2 separate regions of the Homo sapiens genome follow, and region 2 is linked to region 1. Evidence: fine-mapped expression QTL. A gene starts in region 1. The other region holds a variant in brackets. All regions are shown on one strand. Distances are between the middles of the regions.

Region 1 (2,768 bases):
GAGCCAAAAAGATACGTTCGAGAGGTAGGTAGAAGGGTATCATTTCCTGGAAGATGGCTTCCCAGAAACTTTGGGATTATCTTGTATAACCTCCTCAGTCCACAAGTGGGGAAATTGAGGCCCAGTTACAGGACACTGAGAGAAAAACTGTTGTGGGTTCCCAGGCAATTGGGATCAGATGTCACAAGCTGTCTAGCAGATGAGGTCCAGAGAAGGCCACAGCCACCTCCCTGAGGCCATCACTATAAGTCTGCAGCCACCACCAGCCCTAACCCCACATGGGGAAGAGGTGCCTCTTTGGGAGCAGAGGTGCTAGTCAGCTGACAAACTGTGAAGGCAGGGCTGTGGAGGGTGGAGAGGCCCATTCCTGAGACAACCAGCTATTCTGAGACAGTTAGGGATAATGGTTGGTACTGAAAGAACCTGGCCTCCTCACCCTCGTTCCAGTGCTCACACCTCTGTCCCACCAGAGGTGAGACTAATACTTGAACTCCTTTCAGCAACTCTTAGACGCTTCAGCTTTTATCAGGGCCTGCAAAGGAGAGGTTGATCATCAGATGGAGCCCTGTCCACTGGGGGCTCCCAGTCTGATGGAGGAGACAGACTGAGGTCCTCAGGTTACTGACTGATAGTGTCTGGGTTGGAGGGAGTTAAACAGAGAGGAGACCCCTAGAGGAAAGGATCCCTGAATTAGTTCAATCGGCATACAGAAATTATCCAGTCCATGAGGTGACAGTAAGAGAAGTAACTGCCAGTGTAAAGGGAGGGAGGCAACACAGCTAAGTTCCAGGAATTGTTTGCAGTCTTGTGGGTGGAATCTTCCGGAATTTGAGAAGAGAGTGGCAGAATAGGAGGCTGGAAAGGAGGGTTTGGCCAAATTATGGAGGACTCTGAATGTCAAGTGAAGAGTTTGGGCTATCTTTGGTGCATAAAGAGGTCCATGGGAGATTTTTGACCATAGGGAGACCATGATGAGCTCTGCATGGTAGAAAGTGCTTTGTGGCTGTTTTGGGGAGGTAGCTCGGGCAAGGAGAGCAGGGGTGGGAGGCAGATAGAAGGAAAAAAAAACACTGTATTTTGGACGCACAGCTCTTGGCAGGACTCCTGTAGGAGGAAGGAATTGGGCCTTGGTCTCTTGAGAGCTAGTATCCTCACTTCTCAGACTCCTGCGCCATGCCCTTCCTAGGGTCCAACTTTCATTCACTTCTTCCGAACTCCAAGTTTGAATAGAAAGTGTTGCTGAAACCCTAATTTAAAACGAGGGGTCAGAGCAAAAGAGACTTCAGCTCCCAGAATGCTTGGCTCTACAGCTCTGCAGGTCGCGCATGGTTCTTTTCAAGAAAGGGGGGCCAGCTGGGTGAAGTGTGGGAAACCTGGGTACCGCCATCTTAACTTGGGTCAAACCAACTGTTCACCTAATGGGAGGTTCGTGTTCTCTCTGTTGTCACTTGTTAACACTATTGAAATAAAATGCGCTTAACTATTGCAAGTCTCCTTATTCTGCTTTGCGTTGGGGATTCCTTCCATTTTGCACCCTAGGCCAGAACTGAATCCCTAAGGTTACAATAGGACATCCCAGCATGGCCGCATTCAGAGAGATTCCTCTGGGGGCGGAGTCGGAAGCTGTCTCGCCCCGCCTCCTGGTAGGAGGGGGTTTCCGCTTCCGGCAGCAGCGGCTGCAGCCTCGCTCTGGTCCCTGCGGCTGGCGGCCGAGCCGTGTGTCTCCTCCTCCATCGCCGCCATATTGTCTGTGTGAGCAGAGGGGAGAGCGGCCGCCGCCGCTGCCGCTTCCACCACAGGTACCTAGGGAGCAGCCAGGCGAGGTCGTTGGCGGGTGGGGTGGGCCCAGGATAGGGCAGCGGAGCGCGGCCGACCCTCACGCTTCCAGCAGACTCCTGAGCGGCCCGTCGCCTTCCCCTGCCCCCACCTTCACACATAAACCAAGCGAGGCCCCTGCAGCCCATCGGGGAGGCCCAGGGGCCACCCCTCAGGGCGGAGGGCGAGGTTTGGGGGCAGAGGCCGATGTGAGGGTGGGAACCGGCTGCCGGAGTCCAGCTTATTGCAGAGGAGAGGACTGAACTGGGTGGGGACTAGGGGACAACTTGGAGGAGGGGGTCGTCAGAGGGGGAAGGGAACTTGAGGGGTGGGGCCGCAGGGGGGTGCTGGGGGAGGGTGCGGAGGGAGTGGTGCCTGCTGGGTAGTGTGCAGTGAACCCTCCCGCGAAACTGGGCAGCTGGAGTAGGGGCCTTCTTAGGGTCCCTCTGGGCGGGGCTGAGCTTCCCACCTGCAGAGTGGGTGCGAGGTGGAGAGAACCCCAGGCGGGGTTGCTGGGGCGAAAGGGGGAAGGGACCAAGACGTGGGGCAGAACGTCTGGAGTTGGAGTTAAGGACTAGTTAGGAGCCTGGATAGAAAAAGAGGTATGGAGAGAAAGCTTGGCTAAGGGTATACATATGTTGGTGACCTTTTGAAAGAGTAGGACTTTTCAATTTTGTTTTTCGTTGTGTGTTTTTTGCAGTGTTGGAACATTGCTAGATTAAGCAGGTGATGGGTGGAGCTTCTGTAGTTTGTTTTGGGGAAGCAGAGTCAGGGTCAGGAGAAGTTGCATCTTGGCTATTGCTTTGTGTGGAGGAAAGAGTTTTGAAAAGAAGGTGGCAAATTATTTGGGAAGACTTGATTACTTTTCAGCTGTTTAATTCTACGAGAATGGGACATGGGGAGAGGAAATGAAAACTAAGAAGAGAGGCCGGGCGTGTGGCTCACGCCTGTAA
Region 2 (2,768 bases), 51 kb after region 1:
GGGAAAGAAGGAGGAAATGAAATCAAAGAGGTAAAACCAAATCATGTAAAACCTTATTGGTCATTGTTAGGCCTTTTCTCTGAAGATAGAGAGCTTTTGCATATTCTAAGCTTTAGCATGTTCTCACTTGAAATTTAAAAGTTAACTACACATTTATTAGAACAGCTAAAATAAAAAATAGTGATGGTACCAAGTGCTGGCAAAAATGTGAAGAAACTTGATCTCTCATACATTGCTGGTAGGAATGCAAAGTTTGGCATTTTGGAAAATGCTTAACTATTGTTTTATAGTTGGTTGGTTTCTTGAAAAGCTAAACATATGCTTACCATACAATCCTGCAGTGGCATTTATCTCAGAGCAACAAAATCTTAGGTCCACACAAAAGCCTATATATGAATGCAACTATATTTGTAATAGCTTAAAATTGGGGGGAAAAGCTGGGTGCAGTGGCTCACACCTGTAATCATTTTGGGAGGCCAAGGCAGGCAGATGACGAGTTCAGGAGTTCAAGACCAGCCTGGCCAACATGGTGAAACCCTGTCTCTACTAAAAAAATACAAAAATTAGCCGGGCCTGGTGGCATGCACCTGTAATCCCAGCTACTCAGGAGGCTGAGGCAGGAGAATTGCTTGAACCCCGGAGGCGGAGGTTGCAGTGAGCCGAGATCGTGCCACTGTGCTCCAGCCTGGGTGACAGAGCGAGACTGCGTCTCAAAAAAAAAAAAAAAAAAAAATGGGGAAAAGTGCCCTTCAATGAGGGAATGGTTAAACAAACTGGCATATCCATACCATATAATATTATTATGAAGTAGTATTTCTCAGCAATAAAAAGGAAAGAAGTATGACACATGCAACAACTTGGATGGATCTCATGCTTAGTGAAAAAAGGCAGTCTCAAAAAAAGTTATATGCCAATGACTCCATTTTTGTAGCATTCTCAAAATGATAGAGATAAAGAGCAGAGGGGTTGCCAGGGGTTGGGCTAACACACAGGACATGTGTGTGGTGATGGAACAGTTCTATATCTTGTTGAGGAGATTATAT[C/G]AACTTACATATGTGATGAAATTGCATAGAAACACACACACAAACACATGCGTGCATGTAAAACTGGTGAAACCTGAATAAGATCTTTCTGAATTGTGCCAGTGTCAGTTTCTTGATTTTGATATTGTACTGTAGTTATGTAAGATGTTACTATTAGGGGAAACTGGGTAAAGGGTGCAGAGAATCTCTACTACTTTGGCAATTTCCTGTGAATCTATAATCTCTCCATAGCAACCTGAACAATCCTTTTAAAAAGCTGTTTATATTTATTTTTAAATATTTAATTATTTTTAAAATAACTATTAAACTATTTAGTATTTATTAAACTGTTTAGACTAGAGGGCAAGAGTGAAAGCAGTGAGACCAGTTAGGAGAAGGGGCTATGGCAATATATCAAACAAGAGGTGGTGGTGGCTTGGATCGGGGCAGTGGCAGTGGAGGTGATGATAATGGTCACAATATGATAGAACCTTCAGAATTTTTTGACAGATTAAATGTGAGGTCTGAGGGAATCAAGAATCCAGGGTGAATCTTAAGTTTTGGCTTGTATGACAGGATGAGTATCACCTTTAACCGAACAGGGGGAGACTGAGTGGAGGTGCTTTTGCAGGGAGTAATCAAAGGTTTAGTTTTGAGATACAGGCAGTAAACTTAGTGCCAGAGCAGTCCGATGTTTTTCCTCAGGGCCTACTGCTGGCACTTCAGATCATGGTCATGCTATGCACAGTGGGCAGATAAGCTTGCCTCTTACCCCTTTTTCCATGTTTAGGATGCATTTTGGTAAAAGCTGTATTGTATGACTTTTCTGTTATTTCATCTATCCAGCAAATATTTATTCATTTTTCTCCTGTATACCAGGCATTATGTTGAATTCTGAAAATTACAAAGGTGAATAAAACAGTCCCTACCCCTAAGGAGCTTGTCGTCCATATTGAAAAAGAAAGGTAGAAAACATAAAGAGTTTAGGTTCTGTTAAAGAAATATATCTAAAATTCAGGGGGCTGAAGGCAATGATCAGACTTCATTGAGAAGCTGACTTAAATATTCCAAAAGTTAAGGAAATGCTTACCAATAGGATTATAGGCTGGGTAGTAGGGACATTTTAGTCATTGAGCAGTTTAAGAAATTTGTAAAAGCACAGGTGAGATTGTGTCTTCCAGGAACAAAATCATGGAGAAAGAGGTTTGTCAAGCTAAGAAGTTTTATTTTCATTCTAAAGGCTATAAGTAGTCAGTGGAGGGGTTTCAGTAAAGAGTGACGTGTCTGGTATATTTTATCAAGAGTATGCTAATGGCACAGTGTGGGTAGCTTAGAGAAAGATAAGATTGCTCATGGTTTATTCTTTTTCAGCTACGACTAATAGACTGGGGTTTGGCTGAGTTTTATCATCCTGGCCAAGAATATAATGTCCGAGTTGCTTCCCGATACTTCAAAGGTCCTGAGCTACTTGTAGACTATCAGGTAAGAACAGAAGGGCAGGCACAGTTTTGATCCTGTGTTTATTTCGCACATAATTTACCAAAAAAAAAAAAGTATCATTTTGTGCATTTAGGTAGGCCACTTAATGCACATTCACAGCTGTCCTTTTTATATGAAATGTAAAATATAAATCACCTTAATTCATGTACCATGACTTACATTACTTTTATTGTCATAATGTCGGTAGAATATGAATAGGTTTGCATTTGATCCTGACTTGAGGGAAAGTAGCCAAAGATATGTTCT

Evidence for each region. PIP is the estimated chance that this variant, and not a neighbour inherited with it, causes the effect.
Region 2: its variant is the best candidate, but not a certain one, in a credible set for the expression of CSNK2A1 in lung (TOPMed, PIP 0.54).

What each region holds. Positions count from the first base shown.
Region 1 is chr20:542,703-545,470 of GRCh38, reverse strand. It overlaps CSNK2A1 (casein kinase 2 alpha 1), which reads left to right and starts at 1,681. Exons shown (of 14, transcript NM_177559.3): 1 at 1,681-1,799. RefSeq lists enhancers at 1,216-1,275, 1,386-1,435, 1,546-1,625, 1,646-1,795, 1,281-1,974 and 1 more and a silencer at 2,116-2,175.
Region 2 is chr20:491,990-494,757 of GRCh38, reverse strand. CSNK2A1 (casein kinase 2 alpha 1) reads left to right here. Exons shown (of 14, transcript NM_177559.3): 9 at 2,394-2,504. Among named protein-coding and RNA genes, the nearest start is that of TBC1D20, 31 kb to the right of the region's middle. The variant C/G (reference allele first, on the strand shown) is at 1,044.